Homo sapiens: one gene and its partner. The protein of the gene in region 1 interacts with the protein of each later gene in a pairwise test. Each region holds a gene or a part of one and is shown on either strand. Other genes may lie near its edges.

What was found.
Region 2: the proteins of DSC1 (region 1) and PKP2 interact in a two-hybrid assay, tested with the Homo sapiens proteins (one study listed by BioGRID).

What each region holds. Positions count from the first base shown.
Region 1 is NC_000018.10:31,159,841-31,167,615, reverse strand, and holds the start of DSC1 (desmocollin-1 isoform Dsc1a preproprotein), read left to right. Parts: upstream 1-4,759; 5' UTR 4,760-5,021; coding exon 5,022-5,084; intron 5,085-7,775. UniProt on the Homo sapiens protein: A component of desmosome cell-cell junctions which are required for positive regulation of cellular adhesion.
Region 2 is NC_000012.12:32,795,753-32,802,778, reverse strand, and holds part of PKP2 (plakophilin-2), read left to right. Parts: intron 1-222; coding exon 223-376; intron 377-6,480; coding exon 6,481-6,670; intron 6,671-7,026. UniProt on the Homo sapiens protein: A component of desmosome cell-cell junctions which are required for positive regulation of cellular adhesion.

The sequences.
Region 1 (7,775 bases):
CATAGGACAGATTTTATAACTAGGAGAAAGCATGCTACAAAATTACATTCATAGTGCAAGTATAATAATGTTAAAAATTCTATACACAGAAACCGGACTGGAAACATGTATATTAAAAAGATTATCTTTAGTGAGTATATATTACCATGCTTAAAATCAACATTTAATAATGTGATTCTTAATGTATAAGTAATTGATAGTAAGATTCCATCCACATTAAAAAATACTTTTCAAACGTGTAACTTTGAAGACCACCAAAGGAAATAATAATTGGAGAAAATAGCAATAAATAAAAAAAAATCTAAAGTATTTGTTATATTCATTTCACCAGGATTTTAATCCTGAACATCATAGAAACTACTTTAACTAATTTTCAAACCGTACAGTAAAGTGTAAGCTCCATGAAGGGAGATATCATGTCTTCTTCAATTCTGTATAATCAGCACCACTGGTAATACTCAGCATACAGGAGGTGCTAATACATAAGTGATGAATAACTAACTAGTATTATTGAAATAACAATTTGAAACAGTAAGTTTAGTGGACATCTGTTGATTTGCTTGTCTAGTTACTTTTTATCCTTTTTTTCTGTCTAGCCTAGTGTTATCTTTGGGCAGTCACTTCTTCACCACTTTTTGCCCATGTGGTCAGGTCCACCACTTGACTTTAGGTTTATGTAAAAGATTCAGGCCAGAAGGATTGTGTTTTGCTCAAACTATTGGGAACAAGACATATTCTTTCAACAATGACTTGCTAAACCATTCATTGTTGAAATCCTGGAGGTTCTGGTGGTGATCTTTGCCTCCACACTGGGCAAAACTGAAATAATGAAACCAACACAAAAAAAGGCGGAGCTAAGAGATGGAGAGAATTTATGCTTAAATCTGAGTTAGGCTACCCCCAGCCTTCCAGTTACATGACCTAGCAAATCCTTTTGTCCTCAATAATTTTGTTTTGTTTTCTCTTAAGCCAGTTTGAGTTAGGTATGTGGGCTGAATAGAAAGAGTTCTGAACTACCCAGAGATGTGTGCTAATGTTTCTTTTCATAGGTTTGACAACAGTTTTGATAATAATGGGGAGTGATTATTTTATATAAAATTAATCACTATTCTACGCAAACAGCCTTAGGAAATCATTGTTAGTAATTATTAGTGCACATGAGTTACTTCTAAGTTTTAATAGCCCTTTACCCAGGCAAAAGACTGTGAGTCTAGTGAGATTGAAGGAGTTTCCACTGCAGTACACTGAACTCATGGGAGCCAAGCTTTTTTTTTTTTTTTTTTTAATAGCTAACAGTTCTTTTTCTTTGTTCATACACTTCACCCATACTAAACTCACAAACCCTTTTTTTACACCTGTAGTTTTTGGTATATTTAGTCATTCATATTTAACCCAAAGTGCCTTGTAATGGCTTCATCAATGTGTACAGCATTCCTACCAGTCTAGGAGTCTTTTAGAATAAATTAGGTCATCTTACAGAGATAATGGTTCTCTCTGTAAATGGCTTTTTTGAGGCCCTGAATTTATTCATAATGAGCCCTTTCTGTAAGTTGGTCATAAAAAAAATCTCTAATGAAATTTGTCACTGTATTTCCATAAAATATATTATTTAAATTTATAAAAAGGTGTTTTTCCTTGATGTGCCTTAAGGTTAAAAAAAAAAAAACTAAAGAAATACAAGAGTCATGTGGATCTTTACATTTAAATCTTTCTCTGTATGACCATAAATGTGTGGTAGAAAACAGATTATGCAATACTTATGTATTTAAAATAAAATATTTTCTTCTATAGGGGTTTCTCAACATTTAATCATTGTTCTTAATTTCTCTTTAAATGGCTAATATATTTAATATTTGCTGCAGTGCCTCTTTTTATCTTATCTTTTGAACTGGAAAGATAACTGCATGTTCTTCACCATAAAGTGTGCCTTTATTTTAACGTCATAAGATTTCTGTCTTCTTTTTTTCACCCTATATGATGCTTTTCTCCTAGCAAAGGCCAGAGCCCAGTATGTAACCCCTTAACTACTTGTTCAATGAATAAACCTATTCATGTATCTTTAGGTAGCCTCTACATAACAGACCTTGGATTTGCAATAACTTTGTGTTTGTTTCATTTGAAGTTCAGTCTCTTCAACTTTTTATTGCATGCCTAGGCAATTATATGGTGTAAAATATTAGTGCTTGCTCTGAGCCAGACACTGTTGGAAGTATTTTCTTTATAATATCACATTTAATCTTCATAACAACCTATGAATTAGCCACTATTATTGTCCCCATGTTATAAAGAGACCGAGGCACAGAAGAGTTAACTAACTTGCCTAGGGGTTATACTGCGAATAAGTAGTAAAGAGAGGATTTGCACCCAGGCAGTCTAGCTTCTAAGTCCAAGTTGTTAACCACTAACAATCTTTTGCTTAAGCTTATTAATTTAGACATAGGTTAAAACAAACAAACATACAGATAGAAATAAAAATAAAATAGAGCTTGCAGTGGTTTGAATGTCCCTGCCAAAAGTCATGTTGAAATTTTGTTGCCGTTGTAATGGTGTTAGGAGGTGGGACCTTTAAAAGTTGATTATGCCATGAAGTCCCCACCCTCGGGAGTGGGTTAGTTATCATCAGAGTGGACTTCTGATAACTGGATAAGTTAGGCCACTTCCCTGTCTGTCTTGTGCACTGGCTTCTGTCTTCTGCCTTCCATCATGGGATGACCCTCATCAGATGCCCATGCCATGCTCTTGGACTTTCCAGGCTCCTGAACCATGAACCAAACAAATTTCTGTTTTTGTTTTGTTTTGTTTTTTAATAAATTACCCAGGCTATGGTATTTCTTTACAGCAGCAGAAAACAGACTAAGACAGAGCTCTTACTGAATGATCTAATGCCAGAAAATTGGAAGAAATATGTCTTGTTTTCATTTAATTTTAAGGTAGATTCACGTTTAAGGAAGAGTCAATAATTTGTAATAATAAATTATTTTTTCCTATAAAGTGCCTATATTTTATTTTTAGGAAACCTTTGTGTGCAAATACAAAATATGGGAGAAATAGTAATGTAACAGATTTGCAAACCAATAATTTGGGGTTAGCTTTTACACAAGTTTTTCTATTACCTTTGAGAAAGATAGATAATGGGAAAAGAGAGCACGCAGAAAGTAGGCCAAAAGAAGTAGGATCAGAACATCAACTTCCCAGAACTGTGGAGAGTATTCTGGATTCATTTGAATTGAGCAGTGCCTGGAATCTCTTCATCCAACCAATATATGCCATTTTTTCAGTAACACCAATTTAATTTTGCTCTTCTATATCTTCCTAGTTCAGTGGAGAATATCATGTTATAGAAAAAGGTAATGATAACTTCATTAGCTGAAAAAAATGTGTTTCTATTTTCTAGGGTTGGAGAATTTGTCTTTGAATTATTTAAGCTGTATGACTATCTATTTATCTGTCTATCTATCTATCTAAATATATACTTAGATGATGCTTAAACATGCACAGAATTACACTTGGCTGTACACATATACATCTAAGTAATTTTTCTATTTCTATATTCCCATTCTTTTCTCCCAAAACGCCAGATATAAAAATATTCCATTAAAATGACTGTATTTTCTGATTGAGAAATCAAATTCCAATGCAGTCACAAAATATGTTTATTAGTGGGTATACCACTAGCAATAAAATACTACAAGATATCTTTTAGTTTTTTTTCTCCTGGGTCATTCATTTTCCAAATCTTCCTAGCTTCTAATTCTAATGAAGCAGTTACATTTATTTCTGTCTCTACATACAAGGAGAAATTGTTCCCATTGTCAAATAAGCTGAAGAAAACCTTTCTTTCCTCCCTTCTCAGCAGCATGGGTGTTGGGCTCTACCTTAACATTTGAAAATATTTATCCTTCTGTCCTAACTTCCATCACTGCCATTGAGTGCAATTGGTATCACTGAGCTCACTAATTTGGGACAGGAATAATGATGCTAAAGCTCTTGTTAGAGGAATCATTAGGGTTTAAAAAAATCTACACTTGATGGCCTGATTGTACTATTAAGCTAGGATATCCTATGTGTAATGTACAAGTAATTAGGGTGAATAGAGTGATTTTAGAGAGACTTGCTCTCAAAGATTGTAGTTGTCCTTGAAAAAATATAAAGGTAAAAAGCAGTGGCATCTTGTACAACAAAAGGAAAGCCACAAGAAAGATTATATGCTAGCTATTTCTTTATTCTCTTTCTTTTATGAAGTCTTTACATTCTGATAAGTTTCCTGTGACATCTAGAGAACCAACCACAGTGAATAGTCAATAACAGGAAGTAGATACCATGCCTTTATGAAGTTGCTGCTTTAAACTGGAATGCCAGTTCTCTAGCAGAACTACAGTGTTCTACAGGACCGATGACACTTAAATGCTTAGATGGGAGATAACTTCTGATGAGTGTGATTACACACGCTTAGGTCCTCTGATTTGCCAATGGCAGTTGAGGAGGCATCACTTCCTTGCATGGCGTTTGTGCACAATTTATGTTTGTACCCGAGGGCAAGACAGGTTAATAAGGCCAAGAAGGAGGGGAGGCTGTGGGAGTGGGTAATAACTGGGGAGGACTTCACAGCATCAACCTGGGGGAAAGGGAGGAGGGCTGAGGATGAAGGGTGTTCCCTCCTCCTTCTGCCTATGTGTTAAGTGGCAAGAGAAATTTTGAAAGCTGCTGTGAGGAGGAGCTACTGACTGGGTTTTGGGGTGTTTTGTACCCCACCCTCCTCACTTGTAGGAAAGCCTCTTTGCATTTAGACGTAATTGAACTGGAAGGAAGGAGACTGGCCAGGGAATAGGGGGAAAGAAATTCTCCCGTTGCTCCTCCTACTGTTTATCACTTGCCTCCGGACTGTCTTCCAAACCAAGCTCAGCTGCATCAAGGTGGCAGCAGAATACCCTGTGCAAGTGCCAGCGTCTTCTTAGCCGCTCTGTGCATCCCAGGCTGCCCTGTTATCTGGCCACCGTCCCTGGCCATTGGGACTGCTTCTGATGGCTCTGGCCTCTGCTGCCCCAGGGAGCATCTTCTGTAAGCAGCTCCTTTTCTCTCTCCTGGTGAGTAACAACCAAAGGATTAGGGAATTCAAGCATGTTACTACCTGCTTCCTCTCTGCAGTTTGGGCTTGAAAGAGACTAGGAGTGAGGATGGGAGGCAGAGAAGAGAGATTGGGGAAAACAAAAGCAGATCTGAGGAAGATTCAGGGAAGAGTTGAGAGGCTTGGGATTCAGGATGGAAAGTGTTCAGCTTACTTCTCAAGCACCCACTGCCAGAGTGTTAAAAGTTTTCAAGGGAATCCCTCTTCCATCCTGCTGTGGTGATTTTCTAAGAGTAGAGAAGTGAATTCATTCTTTAGGCATTTGGCCCAGAAGTTTCTGAGGTTTACTTCTGCTACCAGTGATTACATAAACTCATGTTATTTAACATGCTGAGTTCTACTAAGCTGCAAAAAAAGAGAAAGGATTCTGGGTGAACATGCAAATTATCCAGGACTTTTTGAATTTTACCCACGAAGCAGTTTAAGCAAAGAATAGTTTAAGAAAAATAACAAAAATGTGACTGTCATTGAAAATATCCTCAACTTGGCTTCCACTTGGGTTTTTAATAGCTTTGTAACTGTGTAAGGTGCTATTTTTTCTTTGGAGGTGAGGGAAGAGAGGGGGGTTATTTCACACATCCGTCCATCATTTCTGAGGTGTGAGTTTCCTATTTTTTCATTTTAGCAAAATACTTGAGTTTCAAAATATATTTTTAGAAATGGCAGGTATGAGGACAAACATTTTCTCCATGTAAATAATATACAATGCAGGGTTGATGGTCACCTTCTCATCCTGTAACTGCTTAGGGAGACGATAACTCAGATACCATCTTAAGTTAGTACAAGTTTGGTAAAATGTGGTAAAAATGTTTCAAAGGATTCTACCCACATTTCTTTTGCTTCTGATCCCTGTACTGTCTAATATCTCTTGGACAATTCATCTCCTGTTTATTTATTTCTGACTCTGAAACTGACTAAAAGGGTGTCACTAAGCCACTTAGTCAGTGATTTAACCTGAAGACGGGAATAGTATTTAATGAATGGAAACCTTCAGTGGCTCTGCCTGCAGAGGGAGGACCATCAACATGGAATCCTAGGACAAGAAGGAAAGAAGATGGGGGTGGGAGTGGAAGTGTGGATATAACTATAAGAATGTCTCATATATTTATATATATATATGTACATTTATATATATATACACACACGCACATATACAGTCATGCTCTGCAAAACAATGCCTCAGTCAATGATGGACTACATATATGAGTGGTCCCATAGATTATAATGGAGCTCGTCTGTATAGGTGAACCATTTTTTATCTTTTATATTGTATTTTAATGTACTTTTTCTATATCTAAAAATGTTTAGTTACACAAATACTTACAATTGCCTACAGTATTCAGTAGAGGAACATGCTGTACAGGTTTGTAGCTTACAATAAGCTATACTATATACTATACACCTAGGCTGTACCATGGTGCATACCATGGGGCATACATATATAAATCATGGTGTATACCATGTAGGTATAACCCAGGTGTGTAGTAGACTATATCCTCTAAGTGTATGTAAGTATACTCTATGATGTCTGCACAAGGATGAAATCACCTAACGTTGCATTTCTTAGAATGTAAGCAATATATGACTGTGTGTATATATATACACACATACACATACATATATAGGTATAGGTATATGTACAGGTATATGCATATGTATGTGTACATATGTATATGTATGTGTTTATGCATAGCCTAATTACAATATGCTGTTTCCACATTGTATACTTAGACAACTATTAACAGTATGGTCTATGCTTAGAAAGTTCTTTAAGTATAATTTATTATGTTCCTTGGCATTAGGGATGAACATATTTAAAAAGTTAAATAAATACGAATGTCTCACGTTTTAAAAAGTGGTTTTTAAATTAGGACTAAATAAAAATGTGGCCTTTTAATTCCAGATTTCTGCCTAACATAGATTTTTGTAAAATTACAAACTATTTAATTAGACTGCTACAGTATATCTGGTAGACTTGAGATGAGCTGGAAAAGAAGTGCACATCCTTAATATGGATGTTAATCCATTCTCTTTCCTCCTCGCAAGTAATGGGTCCCGTAACTCTAGAATTCAGAGAAAAGCTGAAAGCTGATCATAAAATTGACCTACATGTTTCTGGAAAACCTAGCTCTACTCTATCTTATATTTAAATAATAAAAAAGCAGTTATTTTGATAAAGAGGAACAAACAGAAAATGCCAAGAAAAAGAAGTAAAATATATTTTGAACCTATAGACATTTTTGAAATGATAGCTTTTCTTTTGTTTTTTTCAGATAGTGTCTATGTCTTTGAACTACCTAGGTTTTAAAAACAATAGCTGGGCCTTGAATTTAATTAAAAATCTTCACCCATCTGAAGGATACTCTCCATATTTTGACATATATTTCTTTTTAGATTAGTCATGTGATTTGAGATCATTTAGATTTTGGCGTTTTGGCCAAGTCAGTCACAAAATTGATTTGAGAACAATGATTTTTTGGGGGCATTATTTTTCTGTGAGGTTAAAAAAGCCCTTAACTATTTTCTAGACTTCATCAACTATAACTTCAAATAGTAAAATGATGATTAGAGAATTAGGGCATATATGTAATTATGCATTTCAAAGGTAAGTATTTTCTTCATGCTAAAAATCAGAATGGCATTTATGAAT
Region 2 (7,026 bases), on another chromosome or scaffold:
GCTGAGGCAGGAGAATCACTTGAACCTGGGAGGTGGAGGTTGTGGTGAGCTGAGATCACACCACTGCACTCCAGCCTGAATGACAGAGAGAGACTTTGTCTCAAAATAAATAAATAAGATAAAAATAAAACATCTTCATCAACCTCTGGTAATCTACAGAAAACTTAATGTTATCGTGAAATCAAATACAATAGCACTTATAGGATATGTCTCACAAAACAGATGCCGACATCAGTGGCTCAGACAGTTGTCCAGAAGGAAAGTGGCCTGCAGCACACCCGAAAGATGCTGCATGTTGGTGACCCAAGTGTGAAAAAGACAGCCATCTCGCTGCTGAGGAATCTGTCCCGGAATCTTTCTCTGCAGAATGAAATTGGTGAGTCGGTATAAGTATCTATGTGTAATATGTACATGCTGAAGATACAATGCAATGAAATGTTGTCTGTATCACCTCCCGTTCACAAAGATGCACTGGAAATGGGAGTAAGGAGTAGGTGATAAACCGGCCTGCCTTTTGTGCCACCAGATATCACAAACAGGCTTTCTCAGTGGATCTCACCAGAGATTTTTTTTAAATATCCAACATTTAAAAAAAAAATTACTACAAAAGAGAAATTTTAGAGCATACTAATAATTAACAAGATAAGTAATATTGTTGATATTTTTCACTGGGTGGCACCCTCAGTCACACCATCCAATGAAGTCTTTCTAATCCATATAGTTGTCTTTCAGAATGTTCTCTCTGTGGCTCTCTTAAGCACCACAATTCTAGAACATTTGAAAAACACATATAGTGGTGGTTTACTTTAGTAGTTTGGCAGTGTGTTGGACTATTAAAAAAATGGATAAACAGATAATCACAATAAAAAGACAAGGAGTCACTGAATATAGCAAATTTGGCATGGATTTTTTTTGAGTAACTGTGATGAGACATATTTTGCCTTTGACTGTATTATTGACAGAGATGATAACGGTACTTTTTTATTTGTTTGCTTATACCAAGAAGTATGTGATAAATGTTTGTTGTATCTAGTAGAAAATTACAAAATGAGATGATAGAAAGATAATGCTAAAATTAAACATGCTTCATAATGCTCTGTAATCGGTCGTTTCTAACAACTCAAATTCGGTTTTTCACATTTCACAAAAATTATAAACAATATTTTGCCTGTTTTAATGGATTAGATTTTTAAATATGCACATATATAGCCCCAGAGATATTAAAGGCTGCAGTTATGTTTTAGTAATGTCATTTTCAAAGCCAGCCAGCAGCACATTTGACAGGAGGTTTTATGCAATGGCTTCATGCTCATTCTAAGTAGAGATAAGCCTGGAACATTCTCAGTGAATCTGAAAGAGACCTCGCCATAGGCACTCTCAGAATTATTAAAATGCTCTCCCCATGGTCTTTTGTGCTGAACTTCAATGGCAGTGTATTATCCTTTCCCTTTTTTGTTCTTTTCCCAAATGAAAAATTGACTCCATCTTTAAAACACCACCAAGGTAAATAACAGCACTATACACATTAAGCATGTACCTTCAGGGCAGAAATGCTGTTGGCCTCAGGTTCTGCAGTCCCCTAAATGTCGGGAAGGTATAGCTGTAGCCACATGGTTTATATTAGAGGATTCTGTTGATAAACTTCACTTTAAGGATAACAGAGAAAAGAGGCTTCAGCAAGATAAATGCTATTTTAAAATTCCAGATTGGCTTCATGTCAAATATATAAGTAAAAGGACTTCTCTTAATTCAGAATTTTAATAGCAAGAAATAAGTGAAAGTCAGCTTGAACACATGCTTTGTGTTTCTCATGAGAGCTTTCTAAGCCAGGTAACTTTCCCTGTTCTCACCTGCAATAAAGTTGTTATGTTTTACTTACATCTAGAGAAATAAACTTGAAACTTACATTTTCTCAAAAACTTAAAGACAGGCAATGGAGCATGGTAACAGAATAACAGATTTCACACAGAAAACATGGGTTTGTATCTCACAGTGCTATTTTGCCAGTCAAGGCCTTTCATTCTGTAGTTTAACTTACTAAAAGGAGGGAGACTTCTGATAATAGCATCCACTGAGAGCTTACCACATGCGCAGTACTGCAATACAATTAACATGCATTGACTCGTTCCCTCAGAACAACCCTGTGACGTAGACATTATTATCCCACATTGCAACTTAGGGAAAAACAAATAGAGACATTAAGTAGCTTGCTCAGGCCATAGAGCTGTAAAGTAGCAGAACCAGGACTGAAACTACAGCACTCTGGCTTTAGATGAACGCTGAGCTCTCCACAGTATGCTGTGTGCTTGAACCACAGTCAAAAGGAAAGTGTTCAGGCCTGTGAGCAAAAGGTATGTCTTACCTGTCAATCAGGTCCAGGTATTATGATGACATATCATTCAGTGCCTTTTATTGAGTACTTGTCCATTTCAGGAATAATGATCAACGCTGTAAACACAGAAATAAGTAAGATAATTGGCTTCAAGGAACCCACAGCCTCATCTGAAGTTGAGACAGTCACACAATTCATTACTATCAGTATCATAGAGAGAGAAATGTGCTTCAAGATGCCACATGAACACAGATGAAGGCACACAATAAAATTAGGCAGTATTTGTTAATTGCTGATAAACACAACACGTATTCAGAAGCTGTGGGGATCAGCAAAAGCAAAAGATGCATGCTCTCTATCTTTTAAGAAGAGTCTAAAGTGGTTAGAGGAAAAAGAGGAAAACATACATGAAAATAACTATTACAAAAAGTTTAAGCACAAGTTCACATTGACCAAAATATGTACCATAGGACAAGTTCCAGTGGATTTATCAAATATTAACACCTTTTAAGAATTTTCAATAGATTTTTGGGTACAGGTGGTGTTCAGTTACATGCAAAAGTTATTTAGTGATTATTTCTGAAATGTTGGTGCACATGTCACCTGAGCAGTGTACACTGTACCCAATGTGTAGTCTTTTATCCCTCACCCCTTCCTACCTTTCCCCCAAGTCCCCAAAATCCATTATATAACTCTTGTTCCTTTGCATCCTCATAGCTTAGCTCTCACTTATAAGTGAGAACATCCAATATTTGGTTTTCCATTCCTGAGTTATTTCACTTAGAATAGTGGTCTCTAATTCCATCCAATTTGCCGCAAAGGCCATTATGTCTTTCTTTTTAATGGCTGAGTAGTATTCCATGGTGTGTATATACCACATTTCCTGTATCCACTCGTTGGTTGATGGGCATTTAGGTTGGCTCCATATTTTGCAATTGTGAATTGTGCTGCTATAAACATGCATGTACAAGTGTCTTTTTCATATAATGACTTCTTTTCCTTTGGGTAGATACCCAGTAGTGGTATTGCTGGATCAAATGGTAGTTCTACTTTTAGTTCTTTAAGGAATCTCTATACTGTTTTCCATAGTGGTTGTACTAGTTTACATTCCCACCAGCAGTGTAGAAGTGTTCCCTTTTCACCATATCCATGCCAACATCTATTAAATTTTGATTTTTAAATTATGGTCATTCTTGCAGGAGTAAGGTGGTATCTCATTGTGCTTTTAATTTGCATTTCCATGATAATTAGTGATGTTGAGCATTTTTTCATATGTATGAGGCGTATCAAAAAATTTTTCTTATGCCATTTGTATATCTTCTTTTGAGAATTGTCTATTCATGTCCTTAGCCCACTTTTTGATGGAATTATTTGGCTTTTTTCTTGCTTTTTTGAGATCCTTGTAGATTCTGGATATTAGTCCTTTGTCGAATGCAGTTTGTGAATATTTTCTCCCACTCTGTGGGGTGTCTGTTTACTCTGCTGATTATTTATTTTGCTGTGCAGAAGCTTTTTAGTTTAATTGGATCCCATTTACTTATTTTTGGTTTTGTTGCATTTGCTTTTGGGTTCTTGGTCATGAACTCTTTGCCTAAGCCAATGTCTAGAAGAGTTTTTCCAGTGTTATCTTCTAGAATTTTTATGGTTTCAGGTCTCAGATTTAATCTTTGATCCATCTTGAGTTGATTTTTGTATAAAGTGAGAGATGAGGATCCAGCTTTATTCTTTTACATGTGGCTTGCCAATTATCCCAGCATCATTTGTTGAATATGTTGAATAGGGTGGCCTTTCCCCACTTAATGTTTTTGTTTGCTTTGTCAAAGATCAGTTGGCTGTAAGTATTTTGCTTTATTTCTGGGTTTTCTATTCTATTCCATTGGTCTATGTATCTTTTTTATTTTCTATAGCCTAATTGTGAAAGTGGCATGTCTATTTTTTTAATACCTTTCTTGTTAGTACAAAAAAAAAAAGCCAAACTCAAAACTTATAACCAAGAAGTTATATACATAGTAGAAAAGTACATTTAAAATAGTTTATTTCTCTTTTTAAAATAGTAGGCCAGGCGCAGTGGCTCACGCCTGTAATCCCAGCAGTTTGGGAGGCTGAGGCGGGCAGATCACCTGAGGTCAGGAGTTCGAGACCAGCCTCAACATGGAGAAACCCCATCTCTACTGAAAAAAAAAATATACAAAAAATTAGCCGGGCATGGTGGTGCGTACCTGTAATCCTAGCTACTCGGGAGGCTGAGGCAGGAGAATTGCTTGAACCTGGGAGGCGGAGGTTGCAGTGAGATGAGATCGTGCCATTGCACTCCAGCCTGGGCAACAAGAGCGAAACTCCATCTCCAAAAAAAAAAAAAAAACAAGAGTAGTATTACTTATGTATTGGAAAAACCTTGGGAAGCAAAGATTATTCGTTTATTATTTATTTACTATTTAATTTTACTTTTTAAAATAGAGACGGGGTCTCATTATATTTTCCAGACTGGTCTCAAACTCCTGGGCTCAAGTGATCCTCCTGTCTCGGCCTTCTAAAGTGCTGGGATTACAGACATGAGCTACCTTGCCTGGCCTTAAAAATGATTTTAGCTTGGCCAGGCGCGGTAGCTCACGCTTCTAATCCCAGCACTTTGGGAGGCCCAGGCGGGCGGATCACAAGATCAGGAGATCAAGATCATCCTGGCTAACAAGGTGAAACCCCGTCTCTACTAAAAATACAAAAAAATTAGCCCGGCGTGGTGGCGGGCACCTGTAATCCCAGCTACTCGGGAGGCTGAGGCAGGAGAATGGCATGAACCCGGGAGGCGGAGCTTGCAGAGAGCCGAGATCGCGCCACTGCACTCCAGCCTGGGTGACAGAGCAAGACTCTGTTTCAAAAAAAAAAAAAGATTTTAGTTCACTATTAATATTGTTGTAGAAAAACAGCTCCTATTAACATTTTTCCTCAGGTTTCTTACGTGGGTTTTTTGGTAATAGTATGTATTCTTTTTTTTTTTTTTTTTGAGACAGGGTCTCTCTCTGTTGCCCAGGCTGGAGAATAGTGGCGTGATCTCTGCCCACTGCCACTTCTGCCTCCCAAGCTCAAGCAATTCTTGTGCCTCAGCCTCCTGAGTAGCAGGGACTACAGGCACAGGCATGTGCCACTACGCCCAGCTAATTTTTGTATTTTTAATAGAGACAGGGTTTCACCATGTTGGCCAGGCTGGTCCTGAACTCCTGACCTTAAGTGATCCACCCACCTCAGCCTCCCAAAGTGCTGGGATTACAGGTGTGAGCCACCGAACCTGGCCAATAATATTATGTATTATTTATATAAATATACTGATTTTTCACATACACTATTAACATAATTATTTTCTTTTTATTATACATGCTTCATAGATAGGTTTTGTGATGAATAATAGTCTTTGCAGGTGTGTTTTAGTTAATCATAGTCCTATTATAAGGATATTCAGGCTTTTTAGTTTTTCAGTTACATGTAGTACTGTCATAAAGATCTCTGTAGAAAGCTTTTTTCATTTTCAAAGTGATATTTTTAAGATGTATTCCTAGACATGGAATTACCGAATTGAAGAAGATGAAAATGTTTTAAGTTCTTGACATTTCTGCCAAATTACACTCTGAAAAGATTTTCAATATACTGAGCACAGAGTATCCTCTTTTCAAATATTTTTAAAAATTTGTTATTAGGGAAATTACATCTTTCCATGTGTTGTTAACCAGCTGTGTTTCTTTTTAAGAAAGTTCTTGGCCGGGCGCAGTGTCTCACGCCTGTAATCCCAGCACTTTGGGAGGCCGAGGCTGGCGGATCACGAGGTCAGGAGATCGAGACCATCCTGGCTAACACGGTGAAACTCCGTCTCTACTGAAAATAAAAAAAAATAAAAAAATAAAAAAATTAGCCAGGCGTGGTGGCGGGTGCCTGTAGTCCCAACTACTCGGGAGGCTGAGGCAAGAGAATGGCGTGAACCCGGGAGGCAGAGCTTGCAGTGAGCCAAGATGGTGCCACTGCACTCCAGCCTGGGCAACAGAGCAAGATTCCGTCTCAAAAAAAGAAAAAGAATGTTCTTCACCCAAAATATATTGGGATCTTGGGATTAAGAAACAATCTTTTTAATCAAGTGTTTTGTTTTTTTTTTCATTTTGTAGCCAAAGAAACTCTCCCTGATTTGGTTTCCATCATTCCTGACACAGTCCCGAGTACTGACCTTCTCATTGAAACTACAGCCTCTGCCTGTTACACATTGAACAACATAATCCAAAACAGTTACCAGAATGCACGCGACCTTCTAAACACCGGGGGCATCCAGAAAATTATGGCCATTAGTGCAGGCGATGCGTAAGTCCTTCAGTTCTGCCCGTCAGCTGCCTCCCTTTCCCCTCACCAGCCTGTGTGTAAATAATCCGGTTGTGAATGTGCGGTCATGACCATCATGTGCAACATGGCAGCAAACAGGATGTAAAGCCAGGCCAGATCATCTGGTCAGCCCTCAGTGATCAGCCAAGGAAAGAACTGAATCCACCACACCACATGCTTGTCCCTTCTCTTCTAAAGTATCAACAGAGGGTCAGACTCCAGAACTTCTCTTGGTTGTGCATTCCAGCATTGTATTGGCCTAATGAATTAGTTTCCCAAAGCCACAGCTGTGATTTAATAACAGCAGAATGTAGGCAAAGCAGGAGTCCTCTGAATAG